Homo sapiens: one gene and its partners. The protein of the gene in region 1 purifies or fractionates together with the protein of each later gene. This does not show direct contact. Each region holds a gene or a part of one and is shown in the gene's direction. Other genes may lie near its edges.

Region 1 (7,387 bases):
TGGCCAGAGTCCCTCACACTCAGCACGCCCACGTCCCCCCTCTCCTGCATTACATCAGCAATACCCTTCTGATTTGTCTCCCTGCTTCCTGTCTCTCCCTCCCCCAATACAGTCTCCAGACTGCAACCACAGTAATCTCATTAAGATGAAATCTGATTACCTTACTCCACCTCTTAAAAAGGCTCCCCTCTCGGCCAGGCTCAGTGGCTCACGCCTGTAATCCCAGCACTTTGGGAGGCCGAGGTGGGTGGATCACCTGAGGTCAGGAGTTCGAGACCAGCCTGGCCAACATGGCGAAACCCCGTCTCTACTAAAAGTACAAAAATTAGCCTGGCATGGTGGTGGACACCTGTAATCCCAGCTACTTGGGAGGCTGAGACAGGAGAATCGCTTGAACCCGGGGGGCGGAGGTTGCAGTGAGCTGGGATTGCGCCACTTCACTCCAGCCTGGTCGAAAGAGCGAAACACCGTCTCAAAAAAAAAAAAAAGGCTCCCCTCTCCATTGCCCTCTAGATCTAGTCAGTAGCACTCTGCTTCCCCCACAAGCTGCTTCTTTTTCCTCTCTGTCCTGGACGATATGGCCAACTGATCCCCTCCTACAATTCCTTTAACTTAGCCATCCCCACCCCACCCACTCGCTTTTGGTCCTTGGGAATTGTGTTTGCATCCAACACCGCCAGCATGCTACTTCTCCTCCCCCACATTCCTGGGTGTGAACTGCAGAGGCCAAAGTGAGCTGGTCTACGGGGATGCACATTTCCTTTTTGAGACCCAGGAGGACAGGGTTATCTATTGTCGAGCCTGCCCCATTTTGCCCTAGACTAGAGGAGACCTGATTTACACTCAGAGCCTAGAGGAGAGTCCTGTAGTCTCTCTTTGGATTTGAGACAGAGAAAGAGAGTGCCTGCTTCCACAGGGTGAGGGATTTCTCCTGGCTACCTCTGGGAGTACAAGTTCTGCTTGCTGAGCCTGGTATTTAAGCCATTTTTGCCAGTTCCCAAATGACTCCAGAGTCTATAATTTACAGAACTCATTCAAAAGGCAAATGGACATGAGTTTTGCCTTACTTTTTATTATTTGGCTGGGGGAAAAAAAACAAGAACAAATATTCTTGTCCTACTGGGCATTACTCCCCCTATTAATGTTAATAATTCAGAGCTGGTTTCGAAGCTCCTTGGGGGCTTTTACCCGTGACCTGAATATTATTTACTACAACCTGCCTGGCATATACCAAAATTCACCATGGGCAGGTAATTGTAACTATGAAGAAGAAAAGGCCCGGCACGGTGGCTCAGGCCTGTAATCTCAGCACTTTGGGAGGGCGAGGCGGGCGTATCACCTGAGGTCAGGAGTTTGAGACCAGCCTGGCCAACATGGTGAAACTCTGTCTCTACTAAAAATACAAAATTAGCCGGGCATGGTGGCGTATGCCTGTAATCCCAGCTACTCAGGAGGCGGAGACGGGAGAATCGCTTGAACCCGGGAGGCAGAGGTTGCAGTGACCCAAGATCGCACCAGTGCACTCTAGCCTGGGCAATGAGAGCGAACCTCTTTCTCAAAAAAACAAAAAAACAAACAAAAAAAAAAGGAGAAGAAGAAGAAGAAAAGTGAAAATTGTCCATAAATTCTACCACTCCAAGATAAACTGGTAACATTTTGGCATATTTCCTCCCAGTTATTTTGTCTCCATATGTATTTTTTTAATAGCTCATATTATGTGATCTTGGGCCTTCTTTTCCCACTGTACTCTCTTGTTTGGTGGTTTCATTCATTCTGATGGCTTTTATTACATCTCTGAGATGATAATTTAGCACAGATCTATGCTCTGAGCTTCAGATTTTTCTGCCCCTATATCCCAAACTTGCTCCTCTGAAACCATTTTGGTAAATGACTGTTACCATCTGTCCCACTAATACCAGATACTTGGAGTCATCCATAATGATTTTCTTTTTCCGCAATTCTTCCCCACCCCTTTCCCATCTGTCTTAGTCCATTCCTGCTACTATAACAAAATACCATAAACTGGCTGGCTTATAAACAACAGAAATTTATTTCTCACATTTTTGTAGGCTGGGAAGTCCAAGATAAAGACGCCAGCATATTCAGTGTCTGGTGAGGGCCCACCACCACCAGTTTTCTGGTTCATATAAGTGGCACCTCACTGTGTTCTCACATGGTGGACAGGGGCCTCTTTTATAAAAGTGTTAATCCCATTCATGAGGACCCTACCCTTTTGTGACCTAATCTTCTCCCCAAATCCCCGCCTCCTAATGCCATCACCTTGGGTATTAGGATTTCAACATATGAATTTGGGGGAGGACACAAACATTTAGACCATAGCACCATTAAACACGATACCTATCATATTCATCTAACAATTGTTCTTTCCTCCCCGTGTCCACTGCCGCCACCCTGATTCAAGCCACCATCCTCTCTTTCTGGTCTGCTCCCACAGCCCTATTAGTGTCCTTTTTCCCACACTTACCCCCTACAGTCATTTAATGGGCTCAAAGGTCCTGCCAATCTTGGCTCCCTCATTTCATGCCCCTCATATTCTTGTCACCTGGCCCTCTTTCTGTCCCTTGATATATGCCAAGCTCTTCCTCTCTACTTTGTGTTTACTATTCTCTTCTTTTCCTGAAGGTTTTTCCCTCAGCTGTTCCCATAGCTAGTTTCTTTTCTTCCTTCAGCTCTGATCTCCAAAGTCACCTCTTCACATAGACCTTCCCTGATGTTTTAATCAAATTTGTTCTCCCTAATATTGTCCATCAAAGCAACTAGTTTATTTCCTCCCTGGCATTAATCACAACATGCCATTCTTTTGTTAATTGTATTCAATTTCTTTAAGAAAAAAATTAAAAAATTTTTTGGTTTCCCCCCTCAACAAGTAGGATGGGCAGATGAAATATAGAATGCTCAGTTAAATTTGAATTTCCGATAAACAGCGAATTTTTAAAATATGAGATTTGGGACATACTATACTAAAAAAAGTATTCGTTATCTGAAATTTAAACTTAACTGGGCGTCCCTTTTTTTTTTTTTAGACGAAGTCTCGCTCTGTTGCCAGGCTGGAGTGCAGTGGTATGATCTTGGCTCACTGCAACCGCCGCCTCCTGGGTTCAAGCAATTCTCCTGCCTCAGCCTCCCGAGTAGCTGGGACTACAGGCACACGCCGCCACGCCCGGCTAATTTTTTTATTTTTTATTTTTATTTTAGTAGAGACGGGGTTTCACCATGTTGCCCAGGCTGGTCTCAAACCCCTGAGCTCAGGCAATCTGCCCGCCTCGGCCTCCCAAAGTGCTAGGATTACAGGCATGAGCCACCGCGCCCCGGCCGCGTCCCATATTTTTATTTAAAATTTTTTAACAGCTTCGCAGAATAAATTAGCGTCCCGCATTTTCTTTTTTATTTTGAGACGGAGTCTCGCTCTGTCGCCTGCCCAGGCTGGAGTGCGGTGGCGCAGTCTTGGCTCACTGCAACCTCCGCCTCCCGGATTCTCCTGCCTCAGCCTCCCGAGTAGCTGGGACTACAGGCGCGTGCCACCACGCCTGGGTAATTTTTTGTATTTTTAAAAAGAGACGGGGTTTCACCGTGTTAGCCAGGATGGTCTCCATCTCCTGACTTCGTGATCCACCGACCTTGGCCTCCCAAAGTGCTGGGATTACAGGCGTGAGCCACTGCACCCGGCCTGGTATTTTCATTTATTAAATCCGGCATCCTTACCCACAGGCCTGACTCTTGTCTTTTCCCTGGAGTTGTATTTTCCTGGCCTAGCCCAGAGCCCACCATTTACAAGGTGCTCAGTAATTGTTCTATATGAATGTACTATCTGCATGCTGTTTTGTACGTTTTTTACTCATCTGAAATTTACATGTATTTATCAGAAATTCCCACACTCACTAAAAACACTTGTTAAAGACAATTTTTGAAAATATATTATATTGCCAAAACTTCTTTGTTTTCCGTTTCTGCAAAATTGGTATAGTAGGAGTATCTACCCTCATCACATTTTGACAATTAGAAGAGTTAATGGAAAAGTAAAAGTAAAGTTTTGCACCGTGCCCGGCCCACTAGGACGCTCAATAAACTTCAGTTCTTTATTAAAGGAAGCCTGTGCACCATTTTAGCGTAAAGCAAAAAAAGCGCGTTTGTAAAGAACGGGTGGGGGTAGAGAAAACGGTTAGAAAGGTCTGTCGACCCAACACCGAGGGCCCGGGAAAAAGGGAGGAGAGAAGGGTGAATGACAGAGGAGCCAGCCAATGGGGAGACTGGGAACTACTTCCCCCCTCCCTTTGCGTTTCAAATTCTAAGCTCCGTTTCCATCCGGGTCCTTCAGCCTCGTTCCCGGGCAGTATAAAGTTTGCTGTCTCCTTTGTTCGCCCTCGTTGCGCAGTAGTGCTAGCGGCTTCGCGGTTCGGTCCTCGCACCCGGCAGCCGCCACTGGTGCTGAGCTGCTAGGAAGCCCCTATCGCCGAGCTCGTTGGAGCTTGAACCCATTGTCACCCCTCCGGTACGTGTCTCCTTTCCTCAGTCCGTTTTTCGTGACACTCTCCCCGTGTTAGGACTGGGGATTATATCTCCCTGGAGATGGGGGTGGCGGGCGCCATTTTAAGAACCCAAAGGTTCCGACCTATTTAAATAAAGCTGAGGGGGTCGAGGGAAAACAAATGAGGGGGCCCGTTTGGTTGTATGCTTCTCGAGAAAGTTTGGCTGCCATCTGCGGGAGTTGGTAGCGGAGGTCGGGGCTTTGTAGGCTGGAGCGGGGCGAGGAGCGACCGCACCACGGCGATACCTGCATTGGTATGGCGCTGGCGCTAATGATGGGCATGTGGACTTCCATGCGGGCTGCGGGCTTCGTATTCATTGGCGGCCCCGGAGAAGAAGCCCTCTGAATGTTCCCAGCCAATGTTGGTGGTAAAAGTTAGTCCCCTGACCAGTGTCGGTGGTTCTGGGTTGAATCCAAGTGTCGCCATTTTGTCTTTTACACGCGGTTTTTAATGACGAGTTTTAATTAGGTTCCGCTGCAGTCACGGAGTGTCGAGTGTTAGTGTGTGCGTCCGCGTTCCGTTACTTAATAGCAAACGATGTTGACGATTTGTTTTTATCTTTTTGGCCGGATAGTAGAATTTTCGGTAGGGCGGGGGCCGGTGAAGAAGAGGGGCGGCATAACTTGGCTTAAACTTCACATTTCTCCTTGGATTTAGTAGGGAATCCTAATGAGGAAAAGAGGAGTCGTTGGAAGAGGGCTTGGTGTTAAGGTCCTGTGTCTAGCCTGTGACCTTGGGAGTCTTTTAAAACCATCGTTAGGAAGGGTGTGATGAGTAATTGAATCTTTCAAAGGCAAGAGGACTGGAACTAAAAGTTGCTTTTTCAAATGTTAAGCAGCTGTTGCTTAAGAACAGCTAAGGGTGATCAAGGGTAGTGGTAAAAGTTAAGTTGGCCCTTTTAACCAGTTTTATGTAAATTGCAGTGTTACTAAACTACTTAGTTCAAATTGCTTCCTACTGTGGCTGAGGCTTAGCTCGTTATCGTTTTCTTTAGTTATTAAGGAACAATGGTTTTAGTGGAAAATATGAGAAATGTGCGAAAGTAAAAGTGTCCAATAAACTTGAGGAACTTTTTGCAGTGAGGTAATACTATTCCTTTTCAACAGACTCACCGGCCCAAAAAAAAAAAAACATGGTTGAAGCAGATCGCCCAGGAAAGCTCTTCATTGGTGGGCTTAATACGGAAACAAATGAGAAAGCTCTTGAAGCAGTATTTGGCAAATATGGACGAATAGTGGAAGGTGAGTTGTCTGGCAGTACAGGCTGGGCTATTATAATTAAAATATAAGCTATGATGAATTTGATTGCATTGATCGTCTGACATGATAATGTATTTTTGTCCTCTAAGAAGTTCTGAGCTTTCTGTTTACACATTTACTTTGGTTATTTCATTTGACCTAGGGTAACACTTTATTTTTCTGAAAACTACTTTTTAGTACTCTTGATGAAAGACCGTGAAACCAACAAATCAAGAGGATTTGCTTTTGTCACCTTTGAAAGCCCAGCAGACGCTAAGGATGCAGCCAGAGACATGAATGGAAAGGTGAGATTGTCTACACGATGGATGATAACCTGTTACTAGTGCATAAAATAACATGTAGTTGTCCAAGTCTGGTCTAGGACAGCTTTTGAGTTTTCGTTGTTTTTCAGTATATACCTGTCTGGGATCCACTCATCCTGTTTGTGATCCTGTTCCAAAGAGTATTCTGTAATTGCAGAACCAAATCTAGTAGTGAGTTATATCTTATGCTCGTAACATTCTCTCAGTTCAGAATAATTATGGCATTACATGGTACTTTTTTTTTTTTTTTTTTGATAGTCTCCCTCCGTTGCCTAGCCTGGAGTGCAATGGTGCAGTGCCCACTGCAGCCTGTCTCCCGAGTTCTAAGCGATTTTTCTGCCTCAGCCCCCCCCCCCCCCCCCAGTAGCTGGGATTACAGGCATGCGCGACCACGCCCGGCTAACTTTGTATTTTTAGTAGAGACAGGGTTTCACCATGTTGGCCAGGCTGGTCTCAAACTCCTGACTTCAGGTGATCCAGCTGCCTCCGCCTCCCAAAGTACTGGGATTACAGGTGTGAGACACTGCGAGCCACTGCGCCCAGCCAACATGATACATTTTATCTTGAGATCCATAAGCCATATTTTGATAACTTGGCTTTTGGTTTTGGCTACTAGTTTTGATAACAAGCTGATACCTACTTGGCCTTGTTTTAAATTTTACCATACAATAATGCAGTGGGTTCACCTTATGTTTCAATCCAGATCATCAGTATCGGTTTTAAGTATTAAGAATTTTAAGCGGAAAAGCCCCATTTATGTAAACTGACTATATTTGCAGTGTTTTTTCTTAGACTAATGAGCAACACTTACCCATAACTGCATTTTGAAGGACCAGTTAGTGTCTTAGTGCATAGTAGATGTGCAAATTATTTTTAAATCTTGATTTAATTTAATCGTATCTTTTTTTTTAGTCATTAGATGGAAAAGCCATCAAGGTGGAACAAGCCACCAAACCATCATTTGAAAGTGGTAGACGTGGACCGCCTCCACCTCCAAGAAGTAGAGGCCCTCCAAGAGGTCTTAGAGGTGGAAGAGGAGGAAGTGGAGGAACCAGGGGACCTCCCTCACGGGGAGGACACATGGGTAATAACTTGCGTGGACCTCGGGTTTGGTGTATAAGTTAGGGACTGCAAGCTCACACCAAGTGGATGCTTTGGTTAAGTCCTTGAGGAAAGGTGCCAACTTTTGAAATTGACAACACTTGTTCATCTACCAAAGTGATTGCCAATTGAAAGCATGGGAAGCATGTTTTAGATTATGGTGTTAAACCGTGGACAG
Region 2 (6,828 bases), on another chromosome or scaffold:
ACCCACTAGACACCAACAGTATGAATGCTCCCACCTACCATGCCCCAGATCCGACAACCAAAAATACCTCCAGATAATGTGAAATGTCCTCTGGGGAGTACAATCACTCTCAATTGAGAACCACTGCTCTAACTGAAGCTGTGAATCTTAACCTTTGGTTAGTATCTGCATCACCTGAGAAACTGGTAAAAATATAAAGGCCCAGACTAGATTCTAGTTCAAAAATCCAGGGTCTCCACGATCTTACTAGCTTTTTCACAACACAACGAAGTTTTAGAACCATTGTTCCTAAGAAATCAGATAATAAAGTATGGGCAGCACATCATCAAGGAACAAGTTAGAAATGCAAATTTGAAAGCTCCACCCCAGGTTTAGTGAATCCGGAACTCTGAGATGGAAGTCAGTTAATTATTTAAGGAAAAAGTACATTCTTGGCACACTCTGTGAGAAGTTCAGGAGTATAAGAGACTCGTGGATGACTGTCTGTTCCAACATTGAGTAAGTACCACTGGGACAGCATGACCTGGAATCAGCTTCTTGGCACTGCATGGCTCTTATTACCATAAGGTCATGAACTTTTTGTCCTGATCCAGCCTTAAAAAGCAGATCAGATTGGCTTTCCTGGGAGGGAATATCTGGGGGATTACACAAAACCCTACCTATTCTCCAAACCCTACCTACTCATGAATTCTACACAGCACCTGGAACCCCAACTCATAGACTTATTCTTTGGGCTGTGGCATTAGCTGTAGACCTGTGGTTCTCAACCTTGGCTTCGTATTATAATCACCTGGGAAACTTCTAAAAATCCCATCGCTCAGGTCATATCCCAGACCAATAAATCAGAATCTTTCAGAGCAGAAGCCAGACACTTCTTAGGTGATTCTAATGTTCAAGCAAATTTGAGTTGTCAATGAATAGTTTCTCTCAAGTCAGGCAGAGATTGTACGTAAGGTAGTAATACAAGGCATATTACTTACTTACTACTTGTAGTAAGATATAAGAAATAAGGTAGTAGGACATACAAGAGGCTTGAAAGAACCTGGCCAATTTGGCAATCAGTAGGATGTGGTTGCATTCTATAGGCTATTGACTGTGTGCTAATGCCAATTATTTCCCTAAGTCTTTTTAGATCCTTCTAGCCAGAAGCTATCTTTGTAACCTCTGTGTTCCCAGAGCTCTTTTTTCTTTCTTCTTCTTTTTTTTTTTTCTTTTTGTTTTTTGAGACTGAGTCTCACTCTGTGGCTCAGGCTGGAGTACAATGGCGCGATCTTGGCTGACTGCAACCTCTGCATCCCGGGTTCAAGTGATTCTCCTGCCTCAGCCTCCTGAGTAGCTGGGATTAAATGTGCCTGCCACCACGCCCAGTTGATTTTTGTATTTTCAGTAGAGACGGAATTTCACCATGTTGGCCAAGCTGGTCTCCAACTCCTGAGCTCAGGTGATCCACCTGCCTCGGCCTCCCAAAGTGCTGGGATCACAAGTGTGAGCCACTGCGCCCGGCCAACACTTTCAATCTAATCTAACACGTACCACATTCTACCTTGTATTATAGCTGTATACATTATATATATCAAATTTGTTTCCTATACAGTACTGTGAGCTTCCCAAAGGTAAGAATCCTGACTTATCTTCTCTTTCACCTAGAATATTTACTTTAAGAGTAGGCATCAAAAATTGTTAATTTAATTGAAATATATTAAATGATGTAGAAATGTCACCAAATGTACAAATAGAATGTAGCAAGGTATCCTGGCACTTTGCCCTCAGTCCCACAGCAGGAGTTCCTATCCTGATGTGCTTCAAAACCTTCCACAAGTGGACTGATAACCCTGGACTAGACTCCAAAATCTTTATCTGAAAACAGACAATCTCTAGAGAAAAAGTCTGGGCAGATGACTGATGTGCTAATTCTGGAACACTGACCATCCAAGGCATTCAATATACATTCAGCTCCAAACTGGAGCTTTTTCATCAGTGATATGAGCCGAATTAGTAACGTTTGGTGGGAAAAAAAAAGAGCATGATTCATCAGTGTCTCTTGGAATTACACAGCCAGGGCTGTTCATGGCCTGAGTGGTCAAACCTAACAAAATGAATGAAGGAATCAGCATGAATCTCTGGCAAGCCCCTCAGCGTAGTGGTGATTCCACATAAAAGCCTTCTTCGGAAAAATCATAGCAACTAGATACATGCGTGAGTCTTTTTCCCATTGCCTGTCCCTCTGCTCACCATTGCAGGGGCTGAAAGACTGATGAGATTCTCACAGGCACTAGAAGACCACAGAAATGCCTCCAGGAGGCAGGCTGGGATCCAGGGTCCAACCAATATTCTTGTGAGAGTGTGAAGCCAAGGAACACGAAAGAGGGGAACACCTTGGCTAAGAATGTATTCGTGACAGAGGAGAAGGGGAGGAACAGGAAGCCTCCAGCTAGTCGTTTGGAATCTGGCAACCATTTCTGTCAGCTTTCTCATTCCTAGATTGATGCAGATTGCTTAATTCCTTGAGGTAAGGGATATACTAAATTGCCTCTTTGTTCAACTCTTAGAATAAGAATTTCCCTCTCCTCTCCCGTCCCCTCCCCTCCCCTCCTCTCCTCTCTTTTCTTTTTCTTTGTTTTTTTTGTTTTTGAGACGGAGTCTCACTCTGTCACCCAGGCTGCATGATCTCAGCTCACTGCAACCTTCACCTCCCAGGTTCAAGCAATTATCCTGCCTCAGCCTCCTGAGTAGCTGGGTCTGCAGGCACGTGCCACCACGCCCAGCTAATTTTTGTATTTTTAGTAGAGACGGGGTTTTGCCATGGTGGCCAGGCTGGTCTCGAACTCCTGACCTCAGGTGATCCACCCGCCTTGGCCTCCCAAAGTGCTGGGATTACAGGGGTGAGCCACTGCACCTGGCCCACAGCAAGAATTTTTTTCTGAATAGCATTTTACGTGTTAGGCGTCTGGCTGTTTAGGAGATGAGGAAACTGAGGCCCTCAGTTGCCAAGGTCACACAGCTGGTAAACGGACGGAGCCAGAATGCGAGTACAGCTCCTCCTGCCTCCAAAGGTTCTCTGGGCCCTGTAAAACCACGGGCTGCACAGGAAAGGCAGGCTATATATTGTTCTTCCCCTGGCCCAGCGCCCTGATCCAATGCCCGGACACACATCCACACCAAGTTGGACGAAAAGGTAAGGGAGAAACCTTCCCCAAGAGAAGAAGCGGTAAGCTTTGGTTCTAAAGGCCCTGGGTTGGGTCCGTCCTTTGCCACTTCTCAGCTCTATGCATTTAGGCAAATCACTTATCTTCTTAAACCTCCGCATCTGGGCCTACAGGGCCTCTATGGGTTTTTTTTCTATTTATTTATTTATTTATTCTTTTTTTTTTTAACTTTACGTTCCGGGATACACGTGCAGAATGCGCAGATTTGTTGCGTAGGTACACATGGCATCTACGGTTTGATTCAGTCTGAAATGGCGCTCCAGGCTTCATTTAGAAGGTGAAGCACTCTGCAAACTGCGAGGCCATACAGAGATTCCAGAATATGATTAAGGCCCTAACCTTGCTAAGCTGGATTTTCTTTATTTCCCAAAAAGAAGACTAATACTATCCACTTGTACAACCAGAAGGGAGCTCACGTGTAAAGCGCCTCGTCCCCGGCCGGCCTCAAGCGGCGCTAGCTCTCTGGCTGGCGCTGGAGTGTGCCGCCCCTGGCAGCCCCGCCGCTGCAGCGGGGAGCCTGGGAGAGCGGCTCTCGGAGTCTCAGGCAGCAGGAGGAGCGTGTGAGCTGTGGGCGTCCCTTTAAGAGCGGCTGGCCAGGCACGGCCTCCGCCTCTCAGTACGCGGAGCGCCGGCGGTCACCTGGGGCTCGCGGAGCGGCCAGATCGCGGCGGAGTCGGCGCGCTTCCCCGAGGGAAGGTGGGAGAGGGGACCCGGACGCGAGGTGCCCCGAAGCCCTCTCGAGCGTAACCGTCCCGCGCCTCTCTGAGGCGGAGGATGCGGGAGCGCATCTGGGCGCCGCCGCTGCTGCTGCTGCTGCCGCTGCTACTGCCGCCGCCACTGTGGGGCGGCCCCCCGGACAGCCCACGCCGGGAGCTGGAGCTGGAGCCCGGGCCTCTGCAGCCCTTCGACCTGCTCTACGCCAGCGGCGCGGCCGCCTACTACAGCGGAGACTACGAGCGAGCGGTGCGCGACTTGGAAGCGGCGCTGCGCAGCCACCGGCGCCTGCGGGAAATCCGCACGCGCTGTGCCCGCCACTGCGCGGCGCGCCACCCGCTCCCGCCCCCGCCCCCCGGCGAGGGCCCCGGCGCTGAGCTGCCCCTTTTCCGCTCCTTGTTGGGGCGGGCGCGCTGTTATCGCAGCTGTGAGACCCAGCGCCTCGGGGGCCCCGCATCCCGCCACCGCGTCAGCGAGGATGTGCGCAGCGACTTCCAGCGCAGAGTGCCCTACAACTACCTGCAGCGGGCCTACATCAAGGTACCCACAGAGCGCTCCTCCACTGCAAAGCCCCTGCGGCTCTCACACGCTCTCTTGAGCCCTCCCTGCTGCCCCCGTCATCTCTGTTCAGTCTTTCGAATTGGGTCTCCTTAAATATGTGTCTCAGTTTGTGAATCCAGATATCTGGTGGCCCTATCTCTGTATGCAACAATTGATTAACTTGGACAAGTCTTTTTCTCTCTTTCTCAGAGCCAGCTTCTCTCTCAAAAAGAGGACTGTCCTGATAAGGTGATGTTTAAAGTACCCATTCAGCACTAATTCATGAGGCATTGACAAAGCTGAATCTAGTACAATTTATCTTCTCCCTTCTCACTTCCCATTTCTCTTCTCCCTTCTCACTTCCCATTTCTCTTCTCCCTTCTCACTTCCCATTTCTTTTGTCTCCTCTCTCTTATCCTTCCTATACTGTAGTCTGCACCTTTTCTCTGAAGTTTAAAAGAATCTTCAAAATAGTGAAGTTGAAAGACCTGTTCCAAAACAAATTTCTCTCTCTTCTCCCCTTCACCTACAAAAAAGTAAAGATCAAAGGTTAAAGAGAAGGTATGCTTGGAGGAGGCGAAGCTGTTTGAGGCAGTCTCAGTCAAAGTATCCACCCTAAGTGTTGACTTTTTCTCCTTTGATAGAGGGCTTACGTTTTCTGGTGGTATGCATTGGACTGGGTTACTAGGCATCAGTCCTCTCTTTCTAGTTTTATTTTTGTATGCCTAACTTGCCTAAAGTTAGCGTCAGGAGGTATAGTATGCATATTGACATATTGTTCACATCCATAACTTTGAAGATCTCTCTGGATGCTTCAGCAGAGGGAATTTGAATGAGTTCTTCAACCTCCACTGCCACTCACCCAATTTTCCTTCAAATTGACACTCTTAACCCTTCTTTCTCGTTTTCTGTGTTAATATATCAATGTATCTTCTACAGCTACCGGAAAAGTGGAAGCTTTGGGGTTGGTTGTTCATGCTAGCCAATGGACCAGGCTGCTCTGCTCTGCTCTGCTCTGCTGTGCTCTGCTTTGCTTTCTTTTCTCCTCTCCTCTCCCCTCCTCTCCTCTCCTCTCCTCTCCCCTCCCCTCCCCTCCCCTCCCCTCCCCTCCCCTCTCCTCTCCTCTCTTCCTTTTCTTTTCTTTTTTTGACGGAGTTTTGCTCTTGTCACCCAGGCTGGAGTGCAGTGGTGCAATCTGGGCTCACTGCAACCTCCGCCTCCCGGGCTCAAACGATTCTCCTGCCTCAGCCTCCTGAGTAGCTGGGATTACAGGTGTGCACCACCATGCCGGGCTAATTTTTGTGTGTGTTTGTGTATTTTTAGTAGCGAAGGGGTTTCACCATGTTGGCCAGGCTGGTCTCGAACTCCTGACCTCAGGTGACCCGTCCGTCTCCGCCTCCAAAAGTGCTGGGATTATAGGCGTGAGCACGGCTGGACCAGGCTGTGTTTCTAAGGAGATGAAAGTACATACCATGTTCAAATATCCAAATGCCTTTTGCAGCTCATCCCACAAGATCTCTGCCCTCATCTGTGGTAGGGTTCTCTCAGATTGGCAACTGTTGGTGGAGTGCACGAAATTTCAACTAAGTATAAATCTTAACTTCCTTGTGTTGTGGCTAAGGTGTTGGAGTTCACTGGACTAGTATCTTGGGCAAGAAATGAGGAGAAAGTCTGAATCCTTTCCAGGACTTGTCTTCTGCTTGCTTGTGCCTCCTGATTGCTAAGGCATGTATGAAGTATAACTCTAATTTCTTCTAAGTGATTTACACAATTTCTGGTGGTCTTACAGAAATCAGTCAACACCAGGCAGAGAGGGGACCTTGAGTGTCTGACGGTGAAGTTATCATAAGCTAGTTCCCAGAGCAGAACATGGGTGGTCCCTGTAGCTTGGTCCTCCCAGGAGTCTCGGATGTAAGGTTAGCAGTCCTGCTGTTAATTCTGTCACAAATTTTGGACATATTTTCCTTTCTCATATCTGGAGAAAGAATACATAGTCAAGGTCAGTCCTATAAAAACAAATAACCATGAGGTAACTCTCAATATGTGGGTTTCCCTGGTTCTGGAATTCTGCTTGCTTCACTGTTAATGTCAGCATTTGTCAGTCATTTCCCCTCCGGTTCCCTGGTTGGAGGTCAAAGAAGGTGAAGCCATAGGTTTAACATACCTCAAATTTTTGTGGTGAATTGATTACAGGAACAAGTCACACTCTGTAAGTGAATTACTGGGTGTTGTCTGATGAATTAATGAAGTTTAAGAAGTTCTTTCAAAGATCCGTGGCTTCGTGTGTTCATTTCAGTTCTACCAGCAATATTTCTGAGAGCAGAACAAGTCTTGCGTCTTCTCCCTACTTCTCTTCTCTGGCAGTTTC
Region 3 (8,003 bases), on another chromosome or scaffold:
ATTTTCACAAATTTCCAAAATGGGCTTATATAACTCTCCACCCTTTTCTTTCTTTTTTTTTTTCTTTTAGAGACAGGGTCTCATTCTGCTGCCCAGGCTGAAGTGCAGTGGTGCAATTATAGCTCACTGTACCCTTGAACTCCTGGGCTCAAGGGATCCCCCCATCTCAGCCTCTTAAAGTGCTGGGATTACAGGTGTCAGCCACTGCTCCTGGCTCGCCACCAATGCTTTTCATTCTGATCATTTCTGTAGTGAGCAGCATAGAAGAAATAATGCCTTTTGAGGGACAGTTGCATTTAACAGACAGCCTTACTAAGGTGAGTACGTCAGGACAAAGATGCGGGAAGGAGAATCAGGCTATTAGTCCATTGTTGCAAATTGCAACGAATTGAGAAAGTCAGACACAACGATCAACTGCAGTGAAACATTTGGTGGGGAGTTTTGAGAGTCCAGTCTGAAGGAGTGCGTGGAAGGATCACGGTCCCTGTGATGTACCCTCTCTCGGCTTGTTGCTTTGGGCAGGAATCACAAGTTAGGAAGGAATCAGCACCAGAAATGCAGAGCTGGCTGGGCGCAGTGGCTCACGCCTGTAATCCCAGCACTTTGGGAGGCCGAGGCGGGAAGATCACCTGAGGCCAAGAGTTCGAGATCAGCCTCGCCAACATGGCGAAGCCCTGTCTCTGATAAAAAATACAAAAATTAGCTTGGTGTGGTGGCGCATGCCTGTAGTCTTAACTACTTGGGAGACTGAGGCGGGAGAATCACTTGAACCTAGGAGGCGGAGGTTGCAGTGAGCAGAGATCACGCCATTGCACTTCAGCTTGGGAGACATCCCAAGACCATCTTAAAAAAAAAAAAAGGAGGGGGGGTGCCGGGCGCGGTGGCTCACGCCTATAATCCCGGCACTTTGGGAGGCCAAGGCGAGCGAATCACGAGGTCAGGAGATTGAGACCATCCTGGCTAACACGGTGAAACCTCATCTCTACTAAAAATACAAAACATTAGCTGAGCCAGGTGGCAGGTGCCTGTATTCCCAGCTACTCCGGAGGCTGAGGCAGGAGAATGGCGTGAACCTTGGAGGTGGAGCTTGCAGTGAGCCGAGATTGCACCATTGCACTCCAGCCTAAAAAAAAAAAAAAAAAAAAAAAAAGCTTGCATTGAGCCGAGATGCCAAGATCACGCCACTGCACTCCAGCCTGGGCCACAGAGGGAGACTCTGTCTCAAAAAAAAAAAAAAAAAAAAAAAAAAAAAGGCCGAGAGCGGTGGCTCACGCCTGTAATCCCAGCACTTTGGGAGGCCGAGGTGGGCAGATCACCTGAGGTCAGGAGTTCGAGACATGCCTGACCAACATGGTGAAACCCCATCTCTACTAAAAATACAAAATTAGCTGGGCGTGGTGGCACATGCCTGTAATCCCTGCTACTTGGGATGCTGAGACAGGAGAATCGATTGAACCTGGGAGGCGGAGGTTGTAATAAGCCGAGATCGCACCATTGCACTCCAGCCTGGGCAGCAAGAGCGAGACTCCGTCTCAAAAAAAAAAAAAAAAGAAATGCAGAGCTGAAGAGCAGCCCAATGTAAATGGTCCCATTAGAGAGGAACTCTTTCATCATGGACATCTGTAAGTGACCCACACTGTCCAGCAGCATCCACGATGTTTGCACAGCATATGGCCCCAGGGAGGGATGTCTCTAATCTGCCAGGGTCCTAGAGTTAAAGTCCTGTGTGTTGAGTGGAGCAATTTTGCCCATTTTTTTAGTTTGGCAGAATTCATGCTGACACTGAAACAGCTCACAGCAGACAGCATCAGGTTTCAGCATTTTTTTTTCTCTTTTTTTAAGACAGGGTCTCACTCTGTCACCGAGGCTGGAGTGCAGTGGTGCGATCATAGCTCATTGCAGCCTCGACCTCTTGGGCTCAAGCAACCGTCCCCTTGCAGAGCTTTCAGCTTGGGATCAGGTTTGGAAAACTAGAATTCGTGAATTCAGGATTTTCTTCTGCAGTAGCTAAGCCAAGAGACTGTTTGTCTCGAGGCTAAGAGCGAAGCGAGGCTTTCTTAAGCCCTTTAAGTCTGTCAGTTTCAGAGCCCGGGTGGACGCCTGTAAAAAGATCCCTATCAGCTAGAAAATCATGACTCTAAGGGTCAGCTGTGTGGTTTCACAAGGGCTCATTAGCAACTAAAAACTGCTTTTTAAAACCCTGAAAGTGTATCTCCATTTAGAGATTGCCTCTTTTTCATGTTTTTTTCCAGAAGCTGTAATATTAGCAAACACTATAGTAAGAACTATCAGTAACTGAGACTTGTTCCATTTTATTTACTTACTTACTTACTTATTTCTTTATTTTGAGACAGGGTCTCATTCTGTCGCCCAGGCTGGAGCGCAGTGGCACAATCTCGCATTGCAACCTCCACCTCCTGGGTTCAAGTGATTCTCCTGCCTCAGCCTCCCAAGTAGCTGGGTGGGATTACAGGCACACACCACCACACCCAGCTAATTTTTTTTTTTTTTTTGAGACAGAGTCTTACTCTGTTGCTCAGGCTGGAGTGCAGTGGCATGATCTCGGCTCACTGCAACCTCCACCTCCTGGGTTCAAGCAATTCTCCTGTCTCAGCCTCCCAAGTAGATGGGACTACAGGTGCCTGCCACCATGCCCAGCTAATTTTTGTATTTTTAGTAGAGACGGTGTTTCACCATATTGGTCAGGCTGGTCTCAAACTCCTGACCTCAGGTGACCCACCCGCCTCAGCCTCCTAAAGTGCTAGGATTATAGGCATGAGCCACTGCATCCAGGCTAATTTTTGTATTTTTAGTAGAGATAGGGTTTCACCATGTTGGCCAGGCTGGTCTCGAACACCTAACCTCAAGTGATCCTCCCTCCTCGGCCTCCCAAAGTGCTAGGATTACAGGTGTGAGCCACTGGGCCCTGCCTTATCTATTTTTGATACAAGTTCTCACCCTGTTCCCCAGGCTAGAGTGCAGTGGCGTGATCATAGCTCACTGCAACCTTTAACTCCTGGACTCAAGTGATCCTCCCACCTCAGCCTCCTGAGTGGCTGGGGACTACAGGTGCTCACTACCAGGCCCAGCTAGGTGAATGCTTTTCTGCACACCAGGGTATTTTCAAGGATGCGTCCTATGAACCCATCTGATCAGTGAGCTTCTTGAGCAAGGCCTCTGGAACCCACCTCTGCATGGTCGGGCATGAAGAACAGAGACAGTCACACCCAGCCACTGCTGATCTGTTATCCAGTGGAGCCCAGCCTGAACAGAGAGCATCAGGGAGGGGACTCTGGATACTGGGCCCTGCAGGCTTGCCTCCCTGCTCTCTGCCCAGACATGTGAATGGCATCTAGGGGTGCACCCAGCATGGGACTGAGACCTACAGTGTTGGGGACAGAGTTCCTACCTCTAGATGCCTGCCAGCCTTTGCAACCCACTGCTGTTGACACACTTCCTTGAGTTAGTAAACATTGGCCTTTGTGCTTAGCATATAAGCCAGGGCAGGCTCCAGGAGTGGGGGTTTGAGTTGGCCACAGCAATCAAAGTGACAAGATGTTCCTGCTGGCCTGGAGGGGATAGGCAGGCTACACAGAGCTCTTCTCCTCCATGGGAACCTTCTGGGCCTGTGAGATCCACCCTGGGCCACCTCCACTCAAGTTTTCCCAGTTGGATATTTATTTATTTATTTGAGATGGAGTCTCACTCTGTCACCCAGGCTGGAGGGCAGTGGCATGATCACTGCTCACTGCAATCTCTGCCTCCTTGGTTCAAGTGATCCTCCTGCCTCAGTCCCCTGAGTAGCTGGGACTACAGACGTGCACCACCGTGCCCAGCTAATGTTTGTATTTTTAGTAGAGATGAGGTTTTACCATGTTGCCAGGCTGGTCTCAAACTCCTGGCCTCAAGTGATCCTCCCTCCTTGGCCTCCCAAAGTGCTGGGATTACAGGCGTGAGCCACCACCCCCGGCCCCCAGTTGGAAATTTAGACTTAAGGAGCTGAGGTGGACACTGGGAGCACACTGGGCAGGCCCAGGACAGGCAGAATAAGGGGGTGGGACCACCTTGCCTGCCTCCTGAATGGCCCAGAAAATAGAGAAAAGGAGGGAGAAGTGGTCTGCACTGGTGCAATGAGATCCAACTTCAGAATCAAACAGGCCAGAGTTTGGGGCTCTGCTCTTACCAGTTCCATGACCTGGGAGACATGTGTTCACCTCTCCAGGCCTCAGTTTCCCCATCTGATGGGGATATCAATATCTCCCATTTGTATAGAGGGCAATCTAGCAATTTAAAGTGTGGGTCCTGGAGTTAGAATAGCCCGGTTCATGTTCCAGTTCTTCCCTGCCGCTTGCTGACCTCATGGCCTAGGAATGTTCTCTGTCCCAATGAATTATAACCAACACTGAGAGTGTCCTGTGTGCCAGGTCCTGTTCCAAAGAGCGTGCTTATCTCCTTTAATCCCCACCACACTATTCTCATTCCTGTTTTACAAATGAGGCTCAAAGGGATATGGTGATTTTCCCAAGTCACACTGTATGTAACAGAGCCAGGATGCAAACCTTCTCCTGCCGTGCCTCTCAGAGCTATGGAATACAACGCTGTGACGCAAACAGGACTTTGGGGCCAGTCTCCAAATGCCCCCTCAAATTTCCTCTAGGCAAGAGTTCTGGAGCCGCCACTGCACTCCAGCCGGCCTTGGCTTCTGAGCTTTGGATTCTGGGCAGTAATGGTCACATTCCCAGCGTCCTGGAAAAGCTTGCCCTTGGCTTCTGGCCCTGACTCTGCCTCCCACTGACTAGTGGACGTCACTGCCCCTCTCTGGGCCTGGCAACACCATCCTGTTCAATGAGGCTGCGGCTGGATCAGAGGTCCCCAGGCCTGGAACCTTCCAGGGCTGGGCTCAGCTCCCCACCCCATCCCCCAGGTAGGCCAGGAGGCCTGGGCGGGACCTGCTTGGGGTTAAATACTCCGGCCCAGCACTCCCCAGGCCTCTAGTCCCAGTAGGAGGTTTGACTAAGATCAATCATGGTAAGTGCCATGGCCATCTCCCCTTGGGTGGGACATCTTCAGTAACGCTTCCAGAAGCACCTTGTGTTGGAACCTCCAAGTCTCACTGTCCTTCTTTTTCTCCTTAGACGACTTACAGTGACAAAGGGGCAAAGGTAAGCAGGCGAAATGTGGGAAATGTAGGGGCCTGAGTCTAGAAGGGGGTCGGAGTGCAGGGAGACTGGGGTTTCAGCAGAGAGCAGAAGAGGAAGGACTGGAGTGGATACATGACGTGCATGCCTGCACACTCAGCTTTACCCCCGGGGCTCCCCGAGACTGAGCTGGACTCAACCTCACCCTCACAACAAACTTGTATCCTGGCCGGGCATGGTGGCTCATGCCTGTAATCCCAGTGCTTTGGGAGGCCAAGGCAGGCAAATACTTGAGGTCAGGAGTTCGAGACCAGCCTGGTCAACATGAGGAAACCCCGTCTCTACTAAAAATACGAAAATTAGCCGGGCATGGTAGCGCACCCCTGTAATCCCAGCTACTCAGGAGGCTAAGGTGGGGGAGATCACTTGAACCCTAGGATCGCTTGAACCTGGGAGGCGGAAGTTGCAGTGAGCCAAGATTGCACCACTGCACTCCACTCCAGCCTGGGCAATAGAGCAAAACTCCATCTCAGAAACAAAAACCAAAACAAAACCTGTACCCCTTCTCAAATGCCTGCCAATCTTTTAATCCCATCTGGAAGTTCTTTCTAAGGTCTAACTTAAATCCATATTGCTGCAACATAAGTCTATTTCCCTGTGTGAAACCTTGGCAGGCCTCCTGAGGGGGTTTCCCCATCCAAGACACCCAGGAGCTCAACTTCCACATGAGAAACCTCTTTTGAGGCTTGGCAAGGCTGCATGGGGTTCCGCTGCTCCTAAGTTCTGTGGTTGAGGCTGGAATAAGGAGGGTGGCTAGGGGACATCACTCCACCCGCACTTTTCTAGACTCACTTTCAGGGACTCAACCTCACCTCTTCTCTCCTTCTGCAGCCTGAGAGAGGCCGATTCCTCCACTTCCACTCTGTGACCTTCTGGGTTGGCAACGCCAAGCAGGTAGAAGCCGGGGCAAGGTGCTGGAGTGAGCAGACGGCAGGGCAGAGGGCTGCCTGACAAGGGCAGGCCTCCAGCAGGGTCTGTGATTGGCCCTTGGGAGGGAGGATCAGGCCAGGGGTGGGCCAGATACTCTGAATCCTAATTACACCAGCGGGAAAGTTATCTGTCAGCAAAATGTGCAGGCAGCAGTCTATCTTCCCAGGAGGGTCTCTGCCCCTGAGGCAATAGGGCAGGCAGGCTGAGGGGGGCCAGGGGCTCTCTTGCGGAAGTCCCCCATGCTGGCCCCTTGACCCTCATGAACCCTGCTGCAACCCTGTGATTCAGGCCACGTCATTCTACTGCAGCAAGATGGGCTTTGAACCTCTAGCCTACAGGGGCCTGGAGACCGGTTCCCGGGAGGTGGTCAGCCATGTAATCAAACAAGGGAAGGTGAGTCACCACCCCCAGGACAGCCCCCAACCCCTGCCTGGCCAACATGGTGAAACCCCATCTCTATTAAAAATAGAAAAATTAGCTGGGCATGATGGTGGGCACCTGTAATCCCAGCTACTCAGGAGGCTGAGGCAGGCACATCGCTTGAACCCGGGAGGCAGAGGTTGCAGTGAGCCAACGTCGTGCCACTGCACTCCAGCCTGGGCGACAGAGCAAGACTCCATCTCAACAAAAAAAAACAAAAAACAACAAAAAACCCCAACAACAACAACAAAAACATATAATTCAGCTCCCACCGACCCCTCCGCTGGCATCTTTGTACAGCCATGCAACACGGCCCTTCCTAGTTTCGTTTCCTCCTCAGCCTGGCCCAACACTGACCCCACAGGTGCTCAGAAAACCTGGGATATCAGAGGAGAGGAATTTTAAGCAGTGCCCTGACCGATGGGGTCCCTGGAGTTCTCTCCCCGAGGGAGACCTGACCTAGCAGTTCCTCTGAGGATCCAGAGGGGGTCTGGCTGAAAGCCCCATCCCTCAGGACCAGTGTGGGAAACTAAGGCAGAGAAGGAGCTAGAACCCAGGTCCAGGAGTTCTTGTGCTCCATCAGGGGTGTTTCGGGTCGGCAGGGAGGGGCCGATGGGTGCACCTCCCCATGCCCCCCTGAGCCACTAGCCTCACCTCCTTCTCCTCCTATCTTAGATTGTGTTTGTCCTCTCCTCAGCGCTCAACCCCTGGAACAAAGGTGAGGTGCCCGGGGAGGGTGGACGCATGGCTCTGTGGGTGGGATCTGGGTTCTGGGAGGGTGGACGCATGGCTCCGTGGGTGGGCTCTGGGTTCAGGGCCTGGATGGAGACTAAAAGCCAGGTGAGGGGACCTAGACTCCAGACTCCAGTGCCATCCTCTCCCTGCCGGCCACAGAGATGGGCGATCACCTGGTGAAACACGGTGACGGAGTGAAGGACATTGCGTTCGAGGTGGAAGATTGTGACTACATCGTGCAGGTAAGAAAGCACCTGGGTGGACTGAGAGAGGAAGGCCTCCGTCTGCCATGGGGACCCCATCAGTCAGGGCTGGAAGGACACTGCTGCATCACAGTGACAAGCCCAGATGCCACATCACAGTGACAAGCTCAGATGCTGCATCACAGTGACAAGCCCAGATGCTGCATCACAGTGACAAGCCCAGATGCTGGTGTGACACACACCTGGGCTCCGGGGGTGCCCTGCCTTCCCCCGTGTCCTCTCTCTCACTGAGCCTCAGTTTCCACAGCTGCCAGATGGGGCTAACCACAGCTGGGTTGTCAAAGGAGGAAATTAGAATTACCATTTCCTTTTTTTTTTTTTTTTTTTTTTGTGAGACGGAGTTTTGCTCTTGTTGCCCAGGTTGGAGTGCAATGGCACGATCTCGGCTCACCGCAACTTCTGCCTCCTGGATTCAAGCAATTCTCCTGCCTCAGCCTCCTAAGTAGCTAGGATTACA

The links. The genes of interacting proteins can lie anywhere in the genome.
Region 2: the proteins of RBMX (region 1) and P3H2 purify together in Homo sapiens (affinity purification with mass spectrometry; 3 studies listed by BioGRID and IntAct, with this or other methods). This does not show direct contact.
Region 3: the proteins of RBMX (region 1) and HPD purify together in Homo sapiens (affinity purification with mass spectrometry; 3 studies listed by BioGRID and IntAct, with this or other methods). This does not show direct contact.

Annotation. Positions count from the first base shown.
Region 1 is NC_000023.11:136,877,720-136,885,106, reverse strand, and holds the start of RBMX (RNA-binding motif protein, X chromosome), read left to right. Parts: upstream 1-4,381; 5' UTR 4,382-4,510; intron 4,511-5,653; 5' UTR 5,654-5,679; coding exon 5,680-5,788; intron 5,789-5,835; exon of another isoform or gene 5,836-5,908; intron 5,909-5,948; exon of another isoform or gene 5,949-5,983; coding exon 5,984-6,090; intron 6,091-7,020; coding exon 7,021-7,192; intron 7,193-7,387.
Region 2 is NC_000003.12:190,117,884-190,124,711, reverse strand, and holds the start of P3H2 (prolyl 3-hydroxylase 2 isoform a precursor), read left to right. Parts: upstream 1-3,814; 5' UTR 3,815-3,980; coding exon 3,981-4,460; intron 4,461-6,828. UniProt on the Homo sapiens protein: Prolyl 3-hydroxylase that catalyzes the post-translational formation of 3-hydroxyproline on collagens. Contributes to proline 3-hydroxylation of collagen COL4A1 and COL1A1 in tendons, the eye sclera and in the eye lens capsule.
Region 3 is NC_000012.12:121,855,846-121,863,848, reverse strand, and holds the start of HPD (4-hydroxyphenylpyruvate dioxygenase), read left to right. Parts: upstream 1-4,989; 5' UTR 4,990-5,025; coding exon 5,026-5,028; intron 5,029-5,135; coding exon 5,136-5,162; intron 5,163-6,010; exon of another isoform or gene 6,011-6,029; coding exon 6,030-6,092; exon of another isoform or gene 6,093-6,230; intron 6,231-6,416; coding exon 6,417-6,521; intron 6,522-7,202; exon of another isoform or gene 7,203-7,223; coding exon 7,224-7,266; exon of another isoform or gene 7,267-7,442; coding exon 7,443-7,525; exon of another isoform or gene 7,526-7,596; intron 7,597-8,003. UniProt on the Homo sapiens protein: Catalyzes the conversion of 4-hydroxyphenylpyruvic acid to homogentisic acid, one of the steps in tyrosine catabolism.